Regions from separate parts of the Homo sapiens genome. Here region 2 is linked to region 1. The links come from fine-mapping of genetic effects on gene expression. A gene starts in region 1. The other region holds a variant in brackets. All regions are shown on one strand. Distances are from middle to middle. Region 1 holds the start of GABPB1-AS1 (GABPB1 antisense RNA 1). Region 2 overlaps FAM227B (family with sequence similarity 227 member B).

Region 1 (10,119 bases):
ACAGAAATAAAATTAGTCTGTTAAACTGCTATAAGTTTCTAAATTCTTACTTTCTGTAAATGCCTTGACATGGATGTGTAACAAAGGGCTTACAGACTGGCACTGCCTTGTGGACCACACTTTTGGTGAGACTGCTCTAGAGCGCTGACAAAAATCAGACTTTGAATCCACAGGGCTGAAGTCAAAGCAACTGAAGGGTGTCCTGACTCACCAGCTGGCCACCTAGTGGCCTCCTTCTAGTCATAAGCACAACCTTGTGTCACTCCTTAGTTCAAAAACCATCCATTATTCTGCCTGACTCAAGGGTAAAATCTCAGTCCTTTAATCTGACATCCAAGGCCTTCCAGAGCTGGTTCTAAACAACTTTTTAAGTCTGACTTTCCACTATCCTCTACTTCACTAGACTGCATTGTCCAATATGGTAATAACTTGTCCCACTTGAAATGCAGAAGTGAAATGAGGCTAATTTAGGAACTGAATTCATAATCCTAACTTTAATTTAAAATAAAATTTAAAAATATACACGATTCGATTACCGTAAAACTTTTAAGTATGCTTGGAACGACTTGGGTACGTGAATCTATTTTTTCAGCTGGAAATTTTATGAAATCAAGTACTGAGATATGCTATAAGTATAAAATACACACCAGATTTCAAATGCTTAGTTATGAGAAAGATAATGTAAAATATTTTTAATATTTAGTAATTTTTTATGTTGATCACATGTGAAATAATATTTGGATATGCTAGGGGTTAAAAGTGTAATTAAAATTAATTCCACCTAGACAACATGCCCCAAACCTAGGCATCACTATTGATTCCTCCCTTTCCTCATTTAATTGGTAAGCAAGATAGGTCAGCTTTTTGGATCCATCCACTTCCCTCATCTCTACTGCTACTATCCTAGTCCATGATACTCCATTTCTTTTTTTTTTTTTTTTTTTTTTGAGACGGAGTCTCGCTCTGTCGCCCAGGCTGGAGTGCAGTGGCACGATCTCGGCTCACTGCAAGCCCTGCCTCCTGGGTTCACGCCATTATCCTGCCTCAGCCTCCCGAGTAGCTGGGACTACAGGCGCCCGCCACCACGCCTGGCTAATTTTTAAAAAAATTTTTTATTTTGAATAGAGACGGGGTTTCACCATGTTAGCCAGGATGGTCTCCATCTCCTGACCTCTTGATCCTCCCACCTCGGCCTCCCAAAGTGCTGGGATTACAGGCGTGAGCCACCGCGCCCGGCCAGATACTCCATTTCTTAAATCCTTCAATGGCTTCCAGTGCACTTCACCTTCTTATTGAGGCTGAAGACTTCACCTCCTATCATTCCTTCTTTTGGTCACTAGATTTCGGATACACTGACCTTGCTATTCCCTAAACACAACAAATTTTTCACCTTAGGGCCTTTGCCCAGCTATTCCCTTTGGTCTCACACTGTTCTTGTCCTTTCTAATACCTTCTCAGTGAGGCCATCTCTGATCAACCAACCACCAAAAGTTTGCTCTCTTTTCCCCAGAGTAACACTTTATCCAATCAGCTTTTAATTTTCCTCACAAACTCTTTTTTTTTGAGGCGGAGTCTCGTTCAGTCGCCCAGGCTGGAGTGCAGTGGCGCAATCTCGGCTCACTGCAGCCTCCGTGTCCTGGGTTCAAGCTACTCTCCTGCCTCAGCCTCCGGAGTAGCTGGAATTACAGGAGCGTGCCACCATGCCCAGCTAATTTTTTTCAGTAGAGACGGGGTTTTGCCATGTTGGCCAGGCTGCTCTTTAACTCCTGAACTCAGGAGATCCACCCACCTCGGCCTCCCAAACTGCTGGGATTACTGGCATGAGCCACTGCACCCAGCCTTCTTCACGAATTTATGGGATATTCTCTCTCCTCTTATTTTTAAAACTTGTTTATATGCTGTTTCCCTCTAAAAAACAGGAGTAGGAACCATTTGTTTTGCTGCTGCTTTACCTATTTCAGTGTGTAGAACAGTACCAGGCACAGAGTAGGTGCTCTTCCAACAGTGTTGAATGAATATCTAATTGCACACTACACATATATGACTGGTTGGCTCACATGCACTTCAAATTTTACATGGTCAAAACAAAGACTTCTTCCTTCCCTAACATATATTCTCTTATTTTGTTTCTAATCTCAGTGAAGACATTACTATCCTCCTAGCTGCTCCACCAACTCACTTGGGAGTCACCTGACATCTATCTCCCTCAGTCATTTTCAGTTAACCAAATCTCCCAATAACCACTTTATTTTCTTCACACCTACCTGCTACCAACTCAGTCCAAGTCATTACTGGCTCACAGCCTACTGTTTACTCCAAACTCTTCTGTTTGCCTCAAATTTTTGTGTAACAGTGATCTGTCTAAAATGAATTCAATCCTATGATTCTTCTACTTAAAATCTTTCAATATCTTCTTCCTGGTTCTCAGAAGCTGACTTCTGCACATAGCATTCAAGGCCTTCACAAGTAGACCTCCAGCATTGTCTTCTTTACCCAACAATCTCTCTAGTGTTTGCCTCCAAACATCTGTACTTACTGCTTCTCATCTAGAAAGTCTTCCATAATACCCTTATTAAAGCTAATTGCTTCTCTAGTCCCATTCCATTTTATTCCTCCCTCTTGGTTTAGTAAGGGGTTCCTCCTTTATTTGATTCCACAGTATTAAGTAGCTTCACTCTCATCATACTGATGATGCCTATTTACTTGTCTACATTCTACAGCCTAAGATTAATGGGGGCAACGATTCTGTAACAATTAGCTGAATGTTCACTCAAATAAACAATGCTCATTCAAATAATGCTACAGAAAAACATCAGAATTTGGCAAATTTCTATTAACTGAAGAAATGAAAATATTAAATCAAAAGAAAACACAGCCTATGGTTCCTATGCTTTTTTTCTATTTTAGGCACAATGCTTTAATAAATTACACAAAGACTACAAACCTTTATTACATCAATTGTTACAAAAGGCTAAGTGGAGAAAGATTACTTATCTGAAGCTGCACAAAATCAGTGGGCAATATGGATTTCATTTAAGCTTGTCAATTCTCCTGGATTAAATTCTTGGCGCTGTCTCACATATTCCCAAGTCCTACATGTAGGATGCTAAAAGTTGCAGTTACTAGGTTGGGAAAGCCATGCCCAGACGCCCCTGTGAAAAACATATCAATATATTAAGTTCCTTAGCAAATCACATCTAGATTAAGTTCATAATGCTTTTTTTTTTTTTAACTTTGCAAATCTCCAAACTTTTGCTACTTTCTTAATAAAATACAACAAAATTTTTGGCATTCCAGCCACGGAAAAACAGATCTCTACCTCTGAGGTGGCAGTAATCCAAGCAGTTACTAGGATCTACGAAACATGAGGCATAATTAGAATGTTGGGGAAAAAATCTACAGAAATATCTATATCTTCGTCATGAACCTGACTGTTGAGTTTATGAAAAAGTGGAAAAGGAACCTCACTCGTTCCTTCCCTGGTACCTTCACAGCGTCTCCCGTCCCAGTCTGCCTAGTTGAATCTAGGGACACTTAAAGGTAAATCCTAGCCTCTTGGCTGTCCTTCCGTCTCCCAGGATTCTGCTAGGCCGCACAGTTGGCAAGCTTAAAACTCCAAAGATTCCGCACTCTCCGTCTTTCAACAGTCATGTCACAGAGACACGAAGGTTAGCACAGGAACATTAGTTTCCAAACTCCTACCCACCGCAGAACAGGCGGGAAGGTTCGGTGGCCACCCGGCCTCTCCGCCGCGCACATGGCCGTCCGCAGCTCCCACCCCCGCTGCCGCGCAGGCGCCGGGCGAGCCGGGACTTGCGGTCGCCGAGAGCGGATCATTCCGCCGCTTTCTTTGTGTGGCTGAAGCGCTAGAAATGGCATATTTTCTTTCCCTTCGTTAAAAAATCAGACCCTCTTTCCCCTCTCTCCCCGCGGGAACACAGCTAGGGAGTGGGTAGGAGCAGGATCTGCCGACGAGGGCAGAGGCGGAAAATCCTCGGGCGATGAGCTGAAGAGGGCCGGGTCCGGGAGGGATGCTGGGAGCTTGACTCACTCGCACACCATGTGTCCCTCCGCGCGCAGCACGGGGGACTTTTCGGTGGGGATTTTGGGCGCCGACCAGACGCGGCATTTTCGGAAAATAGCGCCCTGTGCAGCTGAAGCGCTTTGTGTGTAGCGGGGCCGCGTCAGCCCGGCCGGGTACGAGGCGCCTCGGGTCCCCGCACCACCTCCTGCTGCCTTCCCGTCGCCGCTCCCGAAGCTTTTCCAGGTCAGTGCGGGTCTGTGTAGGGCCCTGTTACCACCGGATGTGGAAGTTGATCTCTTCGCTGGTAAAAAATAATTCCACTTCCCCCGGAACCCAGATCATCCCCGCGATTTCCTGTTTATTGCATTAAGGCGCCGGGTTTCCGGGGCTCCTGGCCCCGCTTATTCCGCGGGGGTCGGCGGGGTCGGCCTGGGCGCCCGCGCCGCCGCTGCGCTTTGTCCGCTGGGCACACTGCTTCTGGGAGGGGCGGGCAGACATGGTGGCGGCCGCCGCCCCCTCCTCGGCCCTAGCATGCCGCGGCCGCCTCGCGGCTACCCGGCTTGCCGGTCCCGAGCGGCAGCCCCGGGGTGGCGATGGGGTCGCGCCGAGGCAGCGGAGGTTCTGCGGGCGACTGGAGGTTGGCAGTGGGCGGGAGAAAGAGGAAGGCAGGCGCGGCTGGGCCTCGGCCTCTGGCGCCGCGGTACCCTTTGTCTCGGCAGCCTGACGGCCCCGCCGGGCTCTCCGGAGAGGGGAACGGGCGGCGAGGGTGGCGGGTCCTGGGCGCCCTGTGCTGCGGGGCCGAGAGGCGCTCGGGTCGCGGCGGGATCGGCCGGACCAGACAGGGTTAATGGAAGAGCCTGGCCAGTCCCGCGCGGGGCCCCCGCAGCGACAGCCTTGGCCGCGGGGACTGGAGTCCTGAGGGGGAGAAGCCTGCCGTTCTGAAGGCTCGGGACTTCTGCCCCAAAGACTTCGCCGCCGAGAACTGCGGGTGCACTGCCTCAGGGAAGAAGTTGAGAATTTTGCCAGGTCATCTCTGCCAGGGCACAGTTCATCACTGTGTGTTTAGTGTGTTTCGGTGAAGCTCTCCAAGTGTGTTGAATCAGCGTGCCTAGCCTCAAGGGTGCATCGTGAAAACTGAAACCAAAGGAATGATACAGGCCTGCTTTGTGTGTGTCTTCCCACTTTAAGCTTGTTTTCAGTACAAATACTCTTGCTTTAAACCTGATTGGACTGTGGCGAGCGGACATCTGTTCAAAGGAGGGGCCGAGACCACAGTACTTCTGAAGGGGGCTTGATAATGTGGAAACATTTTAAGTTTTCTCTCCGGACTGTTTTGCTCTCTCAATTCAGGCAAGTTACTGAAGTACGTTTTTTATCTAGAAAAAGGTTTGATGTAGTCTGTAAATGGTCCTTGTAAAGTACATTGCCATCTCAGAATTAAAAGATCCACTCTCATTTATTATGCAGAAGTTAGTGGTCATTCTTTCCTGTAGATAGTTTATCTCATGTAAAGACCCACCCAGCTTGGTTTAAATTTTTTTCTCACTGACGTATAACCATCAGCTTTGATACTTCCATTTTCAGGCTCAGACTTTGAATTTAAGGAAACTAAAGATGACTTTATTTTCTTTTCTCTTGGTTTTTTTTTTCCAAAAACAAAAAATAAATCCATTACATGTTAACATAGATGATAAGAGTGACATCTTGCATTTTTGCAAATCTTTTTAATGCCTGGTTTAATAGAAGATTCTCAGATCTACGTCAGACTGTTGTGGTTAGCACACCATGTAACCTCTGGAACACTCCACTGTACACTCATACTTTTTTAAAAAAAAAACCAAAAAACAGAAATGTGTCATTCTTACCGTGCTTTCACCATACAAGTCAAATCAAGCTGTTATGCAAGACACATTTTAACAAGACTGAATAAGATTGATTCCCATACTTTTTTTACTGGGCTCTAACTTTTTTAAAAGTTGGAATTTAGGTGACTAAACAAAATCACAGATGAAGACTGCATAATCTGCCTATGATCTCGGAGACTCAGGAACATTCGAAGATATTCTTAAGTGATTAAAACATTTAATTCTATTACATATTTATAATGATTTACACAAGTAACACGTGAATTCCACATATGCTATCAACACTTGTGTAAATGTTATCTTTAAAGATAGAACATGTTGAAAATTATAGGAGGTACAGATTTTACAGAAAATTAATTCTGCAGTGAATCCTTTGGTGAAACGAACAGTTTGCAGAGACATATCCTTAGAGTTCTTTGTCTCTCTGAATCATTCTGGGTTTTCTAGGTTGGGAGACAATTATACTTATTGGGAGACAATTATACTTAATTGATTAATGCATAAAAATTTAAGGCCGTATTTTAATGGCTTTGAAAGGAAGCTAAGTTTGTTTCCAGTTGTTTCTGTGAACTGTAGTCTGAATCTGTCAGTCTATAGTTCTCTACTGTTCCATCAACAGGAAGCATCTGGTCATTCTTCGTGTAATTGTTAGAAAATACCAGGTGTACTTTTAATGTTTGCTGTTCAAACGAAAATAGATTGGATCTTGGTTAAGTTCACTTGGTTTGGCCAGGCACAGTGGCTCACGCCTGCAGTCCCAGCACTTGGGGAGGTGGAGGCGGGCCGATCACCTGAGGTCAAGAGTTTGAGACCAGCCTGGCTAACGCGGTGAAACCCCATTTCTACTAAAAATACAAAAAATTAGCTGGGCGTGGTGGTGCGCGCTTGTAATCCCAGCTACTCGGGAGGCTGAGGCAGGAGAATCGCTTGAGCCAGAGAGGCAAAGGTTGCAATAAGCCAAGATAGCGCCATTGCATTCCAGCTTGGGCAACAGGAGCGAAACTCTGTCTCAAAAAAAAAAAAAAAAGTATGCTTGGTTTTAGTGTGTTTTTTCCCATAACATTGTGTCATTGTAATGGACCACATCTCCTGTACCATGAATTTTTTTTTACTTTTTTCTTTTGCCCCTCAGTACCAGAAATATTAACAGGTAACAGGTAAAGTGCACGTCATGAGGAATTCAGAAATTCAGAAATTACATGAAGTTTTGCATCATGAATTTATTTTTGAGGGTGCACGAGGCAGTTACCCAGTCTCTGTTTGCAAGTAGCCTGAGTTCAGATGAACTCACTGATGGCCTCCATCTCTTCTGACTTTGCAAACGTTGAAAAACAAACCCACACAAAATCTTGAAGTTGAGAGCAACTTAGTTTCCTTAGTGTCATCCCTCTGCTCCCCTCTCCTCCCCAACAACTAGTATGGTTTCCAGCTAGTAATCACAATGTTTCTATAGCTCTGATGTGCCTACATTGGGATAGCTACAATTAGTATTATAGTTTTCTGAAGATGTTTGTTCCATCATGCTTTCTAGAAGGTAAATCTAGCACTAGATGAGATCAGTATTAGGGCCTGTGTTTTTTCTCAGTGTTGACATCACAGTGCTCTATACAAAGAAGATGCTTTGGTGCAATCAGCTGTCAGTTCAGTTGGTGGGCTAGTGCACCTTTCTGTCTCCCTCCCTCCCTCCCTCCCTCCCTCCCTCTTTCCTCTCTCCTTCTCCCTCTGTCCCTCTCCCTCTCTCTCCTTCCCTCCCTGTTTTCCCCTTTGCACCTCTTCTTTCTTTGACAGGGTCTTGCTTTCTCTGTTACCCAGGCTTAGTGCAGTGGTGCGATTATACTTCACTGCAAGCTCCACCTTTCAGGCTCGAGCGATCCTGCCTCTGCCTCAGCCTCCTGAGTAGTTGGGACTACAGGTACCTGCCAACATGTCTGGCTAATTTTTTAATTTTTTGTAGAGACGAGATCTCACTGTGTTGCCCAGGCTGGTCTCAAACTTCTGGACTCAAGTGATCCTCCCACCTTGGCCTCCCAAGTGTTGGGATTATAGGCGTCAGCCAACACACCCATCTGTGAATAATTCTGAAGTTGGTAGAACAGCTTATTGACAGAGCAAGGTGTTAGCCCCACTTTACTGTGTACTAGTTATATTATATTTGGGGTATTGTGTTGGCTTTTTGGGTAGCATACTATCATAAGTGAGACCTTGTATTCATTCTCAGACTTTATCAGAATCATCTGGAGAGCTAATAAAAAGCCACACAGAGGCCCAAACTTAAGTAGGGTAGGAACGGACCTTAATTTTTCTCATTTCCAAGGTGGTAGACACCTAAGTGTCAAAATCACTTATCTGTAGAGCATAAACGAGGACCTTGATCATGAGAGAAATGGAAATGAGAAAAAGTTGAAAAAATGGGATGTTTGACCTAAAGAAGAGGAGCTTCTTTTAAGAAGTAACAGCCACTTTTAAGGATTTGGAGTTCTGTCATGCAGAAGGATCAGATTTGACTTGACCAGAAGGAACTAGGGTCAGTGGGTGGAAGTTTAAAAGAAGCAGATTTCAATTCTCTTTCAAGATAAATTTCCTCAAAATTGTGAAAATAGAATGAGTTGTTTTGGGTGGTAGGCTGTTCCTGTTCACTGACAAATTGGGGATTCTAGAGTAGAGGAATCGTACTGAAGGAGAATTTGAGCTAGGTGTCTTCAAGTTACCTATAAACTTTGAGGTTTTATTAAATATGCCGAGGTTTACAGGTGGAAGAACAAAAAGCTAATTGAGTGAAACAAACTGGTTAACTTGATAATAGTTTTTGCCTTCCTGGATAAAGAGAAATGAGTATTAAGTGAGAAGGCTATTTAATGAAGGGCTTTAAACCACACTGTAATTTGGTAGATTCAGCAGCTTTAAAAATTGGCATACCTTCTGACATGGAAATTCCCTTTAAAGAATTTTTTTTTTGATGTAGTAAAGATGTGTGTGAATATTTAATTGTGAGCATACTAGATGCAGTATTGTTGATTATAAAAGCTGTGTATTAATGCCTTTAAGCCCCACGGTAATCATATGAAGTGGGTAGTACTATTTCTGCTTTTCAGAAGAAAAAACAGGCATAGAGAAATGAGGTTGCTTGCTCAAGGTACCTGAGTTAGTTAAGTGTTAGGGCCAGGACTTGAATCCAACCAGTGTGACTCTAGAGCCAGTACTATTGATCATTATATGGTAAAATTGTAAACAACCTAAATGTTTCACAGTGATTGTTAGGGTCCATCCCTACAGTGGGGTACTGCCTTCTCAGCCATGAAAATGATGATAGAATAATATAAAGACATGAAAGGATGTCTTGGTATATGTAAGTGAGAAAAAATAAATTTAAAAACATGATTCCATTTTGGTAAAAAAACCCAAAAATATATTATGTCTGGAAGGATATGTGCCAAATTGTTAAATGGTTATTTCTGAGTGTAGTTTTACAGGTGATTGTTTTCTTTTTGCTTATCCAAATTTTCTAACTTCTACAATGAATATAAATTATCTATCATGTTGTAATTAAGATATTAAGATGTAACTTTTCAATAAAAAATTAAATGTGTTAGCATAAGCTGAGAAATTTGGGTTTTATACTCTGCATTTTAAGCAAGTTTGTAGAAATTGTACATGAGAATTTGTAAATGCATGTAGTGTTTTGTAATTTTTTGTTTGATTCCTTATTCTAGAAGTAATATCAATTGAGTAGAGAAACATATCACTCCTACCACCCTACCATAATCAATTATTTTGTTGTGTGTTGTTACTCTTATGTGTAATATTTTAAATATTCATCCCAGTGTCATCCCAGTTAGTCATACTCTAGCTGTGTGATTTTAGGCAGTTTACTTAATCTCTCCGTGGCTCAGTTTCCTTCTTTGTAAAATGTGGATTATTATAATACTTAGCTCATGATGATTGGAAAGATTAAATGTTATTTCATATAAAGTGAACAGAACAGTACCTGAAACATAACAGTTAATAGCTCAATAAATGTTAGCAATTATAGGATCACAGTCCACCATTCAAACTCTTAGGGTCTAATAGGTTATGGAATTAGGAATTTTTTTTTTATATGGGCAAGGTAGTAATGTGTAGCCTTCCAATAGAGTCCAGTGCAATATCCCCCTTCAAAAGTGTTACTGTTTCTGCAACAAAATGTATGAATGTTCGCACTAAATAGGATAAAGACTGTAAATAGCTTCATAT
Region 2 (8,000 bases), 900 kb after region 1:
TATAAAAGTATGCCCCATCTATGTTGTACATTAATTAGAGGTAAAGCAGAGTTTCAAACCTACGCCTGTCTGACACATCTTTTCTATTACACCACACTGCCTCCCCAGCCATATAAACTTCCTAGGAGATTTGAGGATTCAGTTTAAGAGAATATTAAAATGTTCTATCACATTTCAAGTGATAGAATAGTAGGACTTGGTGATTAAAAATGGGAGCTAGAAGAGATGGAGGAATGCAAGGCTTCCACTTTGGTCAACTGAGTAATATCAGAACTCTTATGTAAAATGTATAAGGTAAGAGCAGGATTGAGGGGGAAGATCCTGAATTCAATTGGGAACGTGCTGAAATTGAATTTCCTGGAGGTCATCAGGAGAGCTATCTAGTGACCATTAGATACATGTAACAAGAGCTCAAGAAAAGGAAGAGACATGAAATTTCAGATTTCAGATTAAACAGCACGTGGGTCATAATTGAAGTCATGAGTCTAGATACAATTACCTCGGAATGTATGAGCAGAAAAATATGGTTGTCATGAGCAGAGTAACACATGGTCCCTGACGGTTACATGGTCTACACTGAACTGTCCTGCATAAGAGCCATGTGCCACATGTGGCTACTGAACCCTTGCAATGTGAATAGTTGGAATTAAGGTGTGTTGTAAAGGAAAAACATGCATTGGATTTTGAAGGACCTGTACAAAAAGAAAGAATGTAAAATATCTCATTAATATTTTTATACTGGGCCAGGCACGGTGGCGCATGCCTGTAATCTCAACACTTTGGGAGGCGGAGGTGAGCAAATGGCTTGAGCTCAGGCATTTGAGACCAGCCTGGGTAACATGGTGAAATCCCATCTTAAAATAAAAAATAATAATAATGAAAATATGTATATATTTTTATACTGATTATGTGTTGAAATGACGTATTAGATTAAACAGAACATATTCAAATTTTAAAAAAAGAAAAATACAGTTGTTATTACAGAGAATATAAAATGGGAACCAAACATGCTACTACCACTTTTTGTTGACCTCAATGCAATATTTTAGGATGATTACCTAAGATTATTTATAAAAATTACATTTCCACAGTGGTAAGAGAAAGGAGAAAAGTGATTATTATATTAGCAGTACAATTTTTAACTAGAGTAATTTTGTGAATTTGGGCCCTATGGAAGGAAAACCTTTTAAAGTGATAAAAATTTAAAGTGATAAATTCCTGACTTTGAAATATGTAAAATATTCAAAGAAATTTAGTTTTATCATCTTTTTGTTTATACCATAGTAAGCAAGGCATATAACAGCTAACGTTTGCTGAGTGCTTATATTATCCTGCACCCTGTGCTGTGATTCACATATACAGTATTCATTATTTTAATAATCTTGTAAGCACATAGATTAGATACTATCTCAGTCACCCAATAAAGAAACCAAGATTCAGAGAGACTGACTCATTTGCCCAGAAATAATAGGATTTCTCTCAAATCTCAGATTTGAACCCAAACTAAGGTATCTTCATTATATTTCCTAAAGACTGCATCCAAAAGAGCTTTCTTTAGTTGCTTAAGTTAAATAAACAATAATAACTTGTAACTGCATTAAAAAATCTGCATAGATCTTTTTATGAAGAACCAGAAAATAACATCCAGTTTCTCTGGCAGCTTTTTACTTATTAATTTGTTTACCAAACATTTTTTCCCATAGCAAGTATAGAAATAGATGTTAACAAGGGTTCATTTTAATTTTCACAAATATGAAATAGTAAGGTAACTGGCATTTAAAATTCTGGTTGGGGCCGGGTGCAGTGGCTCACACCTGTAATCCCAGAACAGTGGGAAGCCAAGGCAGGCAGATAACTTGAGGTCAGGAGTTCGAGACCATCCTGGCCAACACAGTGAAACCCCAGTCCAGTAATATTTGTACTAAAAATACAAAAATTAGCTGGGCATGGTAGCATGCACCTGTAGTGCCAGATACTCAGGAAGCTGAGGCAGGAGAATTGCTTGAACCTAGAAGGCAGAGGCTGCAGTGAGCCAAGACCATGCCATTGCACTCCAGCCTGGGCAACAGAGCAAGACTCTATCTCAAAAAAAAAAAATCTGGTTGGTATTGAATCAAATTTTGAATCTATGTCAAGTAGTGATATAAGATATCATATTGAGAGAAAGTTTCTCAAATAGCATTTTTTCACTAGTTATTAAACACAGTCTCTCAAATTCTGAGAGCATCCTGGATCCTGGACTTACTGGAAGAACCGCATGTAAAATAATTCCTAAGAGATTACAAAGTGGGTCTTAGTTTTTTCCTCCTAGGTAAAAGATTTACTTGACCGCTCTTGATTGCTATATAAGTATTACTTTTAAAACTTACTTAACAAGTGATTCTAAATAAAATTTAGGAGTATTAATCCCCAATAAAGGCTTCAAATTTAGAAGACATGTTTCATGATTTGAGACGTACATAAAAATTAGAGTTCAGTTTGGCTTGTGCTGTGTTTCACTTCATGTTTACTGAAATTATCAAGGTCAATGAATGTGTAGTCAGTACATTTAAAGGTGAATTGAAGAGGAATTCTAAGAAGATTTAGAAAAAAATATAAATACTAAAATTTTAGTAAAGTTGAGATTTCAGAATTTAATCTCATTGTTGATGTTATAATCTATATATACATATAGATTTAAGCAAACATATATACATATATGTCTGTCAGCAATGCATAGACTTCTCTGTAATTTTGAATGTTGCTTAAAAATATATACTATTCAACACTTTACAGAAGAAAAAATACTTTATCATTATGATACTAATTTTGTGCCTAATAAAACTTTTTTAGTTTTTATAATTTCTTCTCTCACAAAACCTTAGCCTCTATGATATGCAATATATGTAGTTGTCACACTTTCTGTAGAAATTGGCAAGCTCTAATTGGTTAAAATTTTAAATGACCGTATTATTTATTTTATATGTAAGTATCCATATTCTTAGTTAATATTTTGGAAACAAATACATATAAACCCTAAAGGAAATTGGTTTTTGATATACTTTTTCTAGGTCATGGGATTATATCTGACTTAAAATTTTGATTGAATTAAACTGTCATTTAAAAAAAAACCAGTTTTTAGACATATATTTCCCCACTCACACACATACAGATGGCACTGACCAGGGAAATATATTTTTGGGGGAAGGAGCATTCAAAGGAGTTGATTAGCTGTAGCTATACTAACTATATCTCTAGTTTAGTTTTTTTCCCAAATAGGTTCAGCCCACATGTGGAAAAGAATAACTGGGCAGCTTCAGACAAAAAACCTAAGCTATCCAATTGCCTGTAACAGATTTTACAGTAAAACAGATGAGGTTTATTTTTAAATGAACTATCATAACAAACGCAGTGTTATTAGTTTTGTTAAACTGGATTTAAAGATCAAGAATGTAATTGAAAACCTGTGATGTGGGAATCAAGAGGCATAAGGAAGTTTTTGTTCTCTGAAATGTCTTTCTTATCCAGACTCTTGCTGGCTGCAGCCCTTGAATTGTACCACTGGAAACTAGTTGCTCTACATTAAGCATCATATTTTCAGGGGCACATAACTAAAGAGTAAATATTTCTGAGAAAGTTTACACATTGAGCTATTAACCATTAATAATGTCAGTTTATAAAATGGCTCTCTAATGGTGTAGCTGGCTAAGAGGAGGGGCTTAAAAAATGGCATTCAGGATGGTTTTGAAGGGTCAGTATAAGGGAAAAAAAATATCTTTAGCAACATAATCAGTGACATAGGCCAGAGAAATGAACTCTAGACAGTCAGGAACACAATAAAAATTCCAAGATTTGGAAGAAAGAGTTATCTTGTATTGACAGGAAACTGCTAAAAGATGATGAGGAGGGAAATGAACACACTTCATCAGTTGTTCAATTGTTATTCTTCTGTCACTTGAGTCTTGATATAGAAACTAAATTCACTCTTCTGCCATTCTAATTCCATTATTGCAAATTTCTTTATAGTGAATTTCCCTGTAAGAAGGCATGTTTATTCCACAACTCCGTTTTAATTTGTTTCTTCTCAGTCTTATGGATTTATACAACTTTGGCACATGCATTGCTGATCCATTCCTTACGGGCTCATGCAACCACATTTGTATGAATGGCGCATCACAGTCTAGTTTGTGATTGAGCATGACATTTTCTTTGCATATGTCTGTGGAGTGTTCCCTCCATACATTTCTAAAAACCTGTTTTCCAACTCAGAAATTTTAACATTAGAATTCACAGGATGACAGTATCTCTAAAGTTAAGTAATCTTTATGGATATCTGATCTCGTTTACATGTATCTTTAT[A/TTATA]ATTGACTATGATATTGGGATGAAGCTAACAAAATTTAAGAAAGAGAAAAGCAAGGCACTGTAAATACAAAAAGCAATTGCACAAGTATAGAAGCGAAAGAGACCTAACTTGGCAGCAATTCATCTGAAAGGGACCTGGACAAGCTTAAGATGAGCCGACAGTATGGCATATTTGCCTTAAACTATATTAATGGGAAGGCAACCTTGGCTGCCTTAATAGAAGTATAAGGTTGCCAAGGAGGCAGTAATCTTGCTGATTCTGGCCCCACCCTGTGCAATTTGGAGCATTGCATTCTGGGTATCCTATTTTAGGTGGTATTCTTAGAGGACTGGTGGGTGGTGAAAATCTGAGAAATCATGTTTAAGTGTAATGGTTGAGTGAATTTACATTGCTTAGCCTAGAGAAGATAAGATTAAATAGAAATATAACTGTCTTTATATACTAAAATCACTGTCCTATAGAGGACAATTTGTAGGTATAGAAGTAAAAAACATTTACTGATTTGTGGTCTTATTTTAGATTGATTTCATGATTGCTTTATTCCATATAAAAATAACTAGCAATAAATACTAGGAGCCCAATATGAGCCTATGCAGGTGGAAATTAGGTAACAAGAAAAACTTAGACTTAGTAATGCAGTCTGAGATAGTGCTAGAGTGAGCAGTTCTCTACAGACTGAAGGTATCATTCAAGTCTCTGTTTGAATTCCTATCTGTAAGCCAGACCAGCATTTGAAATAGCCAAAAATTACTTATCAAGGGGATGAGTGCAGACAGAAAAGAATGTTATTTCTCCTATGAAAGTGTTTTTTTTAGTGGCATATCCATATTATTCATATGCAAAAAAAAGAGCATGAGGAAAGGGGCTTAAACTGAAGCAGGAGTAATTTCCCTAGATATGAGAAAGTATCCAGTTGTTAGGGTAATATAATATTGGAATCGACTGCTAAAGAAAATTGTAGAGGGTTCATTCTTGGAGAGCTTCAAGAAAAGTTTTGCCAGTTATCTGTCTTGGGTTGCTTAGACTACTGGGTATTTGGGGGAGCCTTCCTTATCTTATCAGAGTGTGACTGAGAGGAAATTGACAGCCACATGTATTAAAAGCAACATAGTTTATTATATATATATATATGTACATATGTGGATGTTCATCAAAAAATAGTATATGCTCATCAAAGAATATTTGGAAATCACTGAAAAAAAGTGAAGAGAATAACCAGAAATATAACTATTGTAATCTAGTATATTTATTTTTAATCATTTTTCTGTGAATTTTGATTAACTTATGTTAGGAGTTTTTTAAAACAATAAATATACTCTTTTAAAATTGCTTTTTAAATTTAAGCACAAGGAATTTACCCAGTCACTTTAATGAACAATTAATATACACATCAGTTCTATATTGTGGTTAGTTAAAGCAAAGAAATGGAGAAAAGGAATTAAAAGAGTTAAATGGAAAGAAAGGAGAGAAGGGAAGAGAAAAAAGAATAAGGAAAAGAAAAGAGGGAGAAAAGGTAACAGGAAAGAAGACAAATTTGGAAGGAGATGTAGAAAAAACAGAAGAGTTGGGGGGACAACAATAGTGAAATGTTAGGGAGAAGGTTGAAAAGAAAGTTCTAGTAATTTATGATAGATATCCTGAGATAACCCTCATTCATCTGGCCCTCAAATATGTTATGTAAATAGGAGCATAATATGTTGCTTCATATTTCTGTCTTTTGAAGTTCTGATAAGTTTGTTATTTACTGATTATAAATCTGTATATGCTCTCGGACATTAAAATAATTTCAAACTCTCAAATCAAAAGATATCTGGAGCAGCTTTTGAATGATGAAGTTCTTCTCTGGTTGCAGAAGTAAAAGCTAGATCTTTAAAGGACACGAGCCTGAGGATTCTACCTCTACCTTATATTAATTGGCATGAAAAACAAAAGTCAAACCTATTGTTTATTCAATTCATTCTCGTTCTGTGAATCTTGGATTTTATGTTTTCATGTTTTCTCCATCATGTTGGTGACCAGTTAGTTGAATTAGTTTGGAGCAAGCAGTAATGAGGACAAAGTCATTCCACATAAAAATTTTCTCAAGTATTAACAATTATCCATGAATTGATTGCATGTTTTACCCAAATCATCTTCTTCAGTAATGAAGGAGATAGCTTTGAAATCTATCAATTTGCATAAATTTACCAGAAAATTCACCCCAAGCAAATACACCACTGATGGTGAACATGTATTTTAAACCTGACAAACAATACATCAACGCATATGCTACCAAGACTTAGTAATTAAATCACATTAAGATTGAGAATCTCTTATTCTAGCATGATTTCTATACTAGCTGCCATATTTGACTCTTGTAATGCACATCTGGGTATCTAGAAACATATGTTCCAAATCTGACTCTATCACTAACTAGCTCTGTGATCTTTGCTTACTTCTTCTTAACCTCACAGAAGCTCAAAATGTATTTACCTCTAAGTAAAGTTCAAAGTGATAAGAGAGTATTTTGCCAGCCATGTTACAGAGTTTCTTAGTTAATATTCTCAAGCTCTTACAAGTATCAAAAGAAATAACAATATAGTGCAAGATTATTTACAATGGGCCTGGTGGATTATATAATAACACTTTGTCCACCTAAATTATTATTACAAGAAATACTTTTTGAAAGCCTTATATCAGTGTAGGAAACCACAGGCTTGCATATTTGACCTTTAACATGATTTTATTCAGTGTTTAGGGTAATGTTAGTAGAATCACAGTCCATTTATTCAGGATGAGTTCCCGCACCCCCAAATTCCAGTGAGTGTTCTGGTTATACCTGTCAAAATCTCTAGAAACTTCAGAACTTCTGGAGTATTTCTCTGCCTTTTATCTCTCCTGATTTCTTGATATATCTGTGTATTGCTTTTCCTTCTCTTTAGTGAGCACTCCTTCCTCACTTCTCCCCCTGCTTGTATCTTTCTCCATTTACTTCCTAACATCCTTCCTTTAATTCTGTCTCTCCCATTTATCCTTGTTTTGTGCTATCTTCTCTTTTTATAATATGAAGTTAAAATATGTTTTGAAGCATTTTATCTGTTCACTAGGTCTGTGTTACCACTTTCTTTGCATCATATTCTCCAGCTAGACAGGACAGAGATCCCCATTCCTCACTGTTGTCCTAATGCATCTGCACCTTTTTTTCACATTTTGTTCTCTTCTTTAAAAAAGCTCTTTACCCTCTATGAAATCCTCCAACCAATCCTTCCTTCAAGCAAATGCACCTTTACCAGGAAATTTTCCTTTCCCAGTTCTTTACCTCCTTAGGTGCACCCAGAAATATTCTCTTTCAGTCTCCTTATCACTCCTTTGTTCATATGAAACTTACTAGCAACTATCGTAACTTACCAAATTATTTCCTATGGCAGTACATTAAGGGTAAAAGTCACATTGTTTATCTTTGTATCCATTATTACACAATGTCACCTGTACATCGAAGGTGCTCTATGAGTACTGAATTGAACTGCACTAATTTAAATCTTAATGAACTAGATCTAATTGCCCTTTGATTCCATGTAACATTCAGTTAAGATTTTCTAAGATGAGTGGCTCTTAACTTAAAAAGAAAAAAGTGTTCCCATATTTATCAGTGAGTGAAGCCTTCCTCAATGAAAATTGTTGT

The links.
Region 2: its variant is fine-mapped to the expression of GABPB1-AS1 in cerebellum (GTEx, PIP 0.99).

What each region holds. Positions count from the first base shown.
Region 1 is chr15:50,349,133-50,359,251 of GRCh38, reverse strand. GABPB1-AS1 (GABPB1 antisense RNA 1) reads right to left here and starts at 5,078. Exons shown (of 1, transcript NR_024490.1): 1 at 940-5,078. It overlaps GABPB1 (GA binding protein transcription factor subunit beta 1), which reads left to right and starts at 4,054. Exons shown (of 9, transcript NM_016654.5): 1 at 4,054-4,267. It overlaps GABPB1-IT1 (GABPB1 intronic transcript), which reads left to right and starts at 4,373. Exons shown (of 1, transcript NR_026891.1): 1 at 4,373-10,119. RefSeq lists enhancers at 3,501-3,580, 3,649-4,272, 5,011-5,070 and silencers at 3,781-3,830, 4,411-4,660, 4,671-4,880.
Region 2 is chr15:49,446,145-49,454,144 of GRCh38, reverse strand. The region is part of intron 11 of FAM227B (family with sequence similarity 227 member B); the gene reads left to right. The region is part of intron 2 of FGF7 (fibroblast growth factor 7); the gene reads right to left. Among named protein-coding and RNA genes, the nearest start is that of FGF7, 27 kb to the right of the region's middle. The variant A/TTATA (reference allele first, on the strand shown) is at 4,339.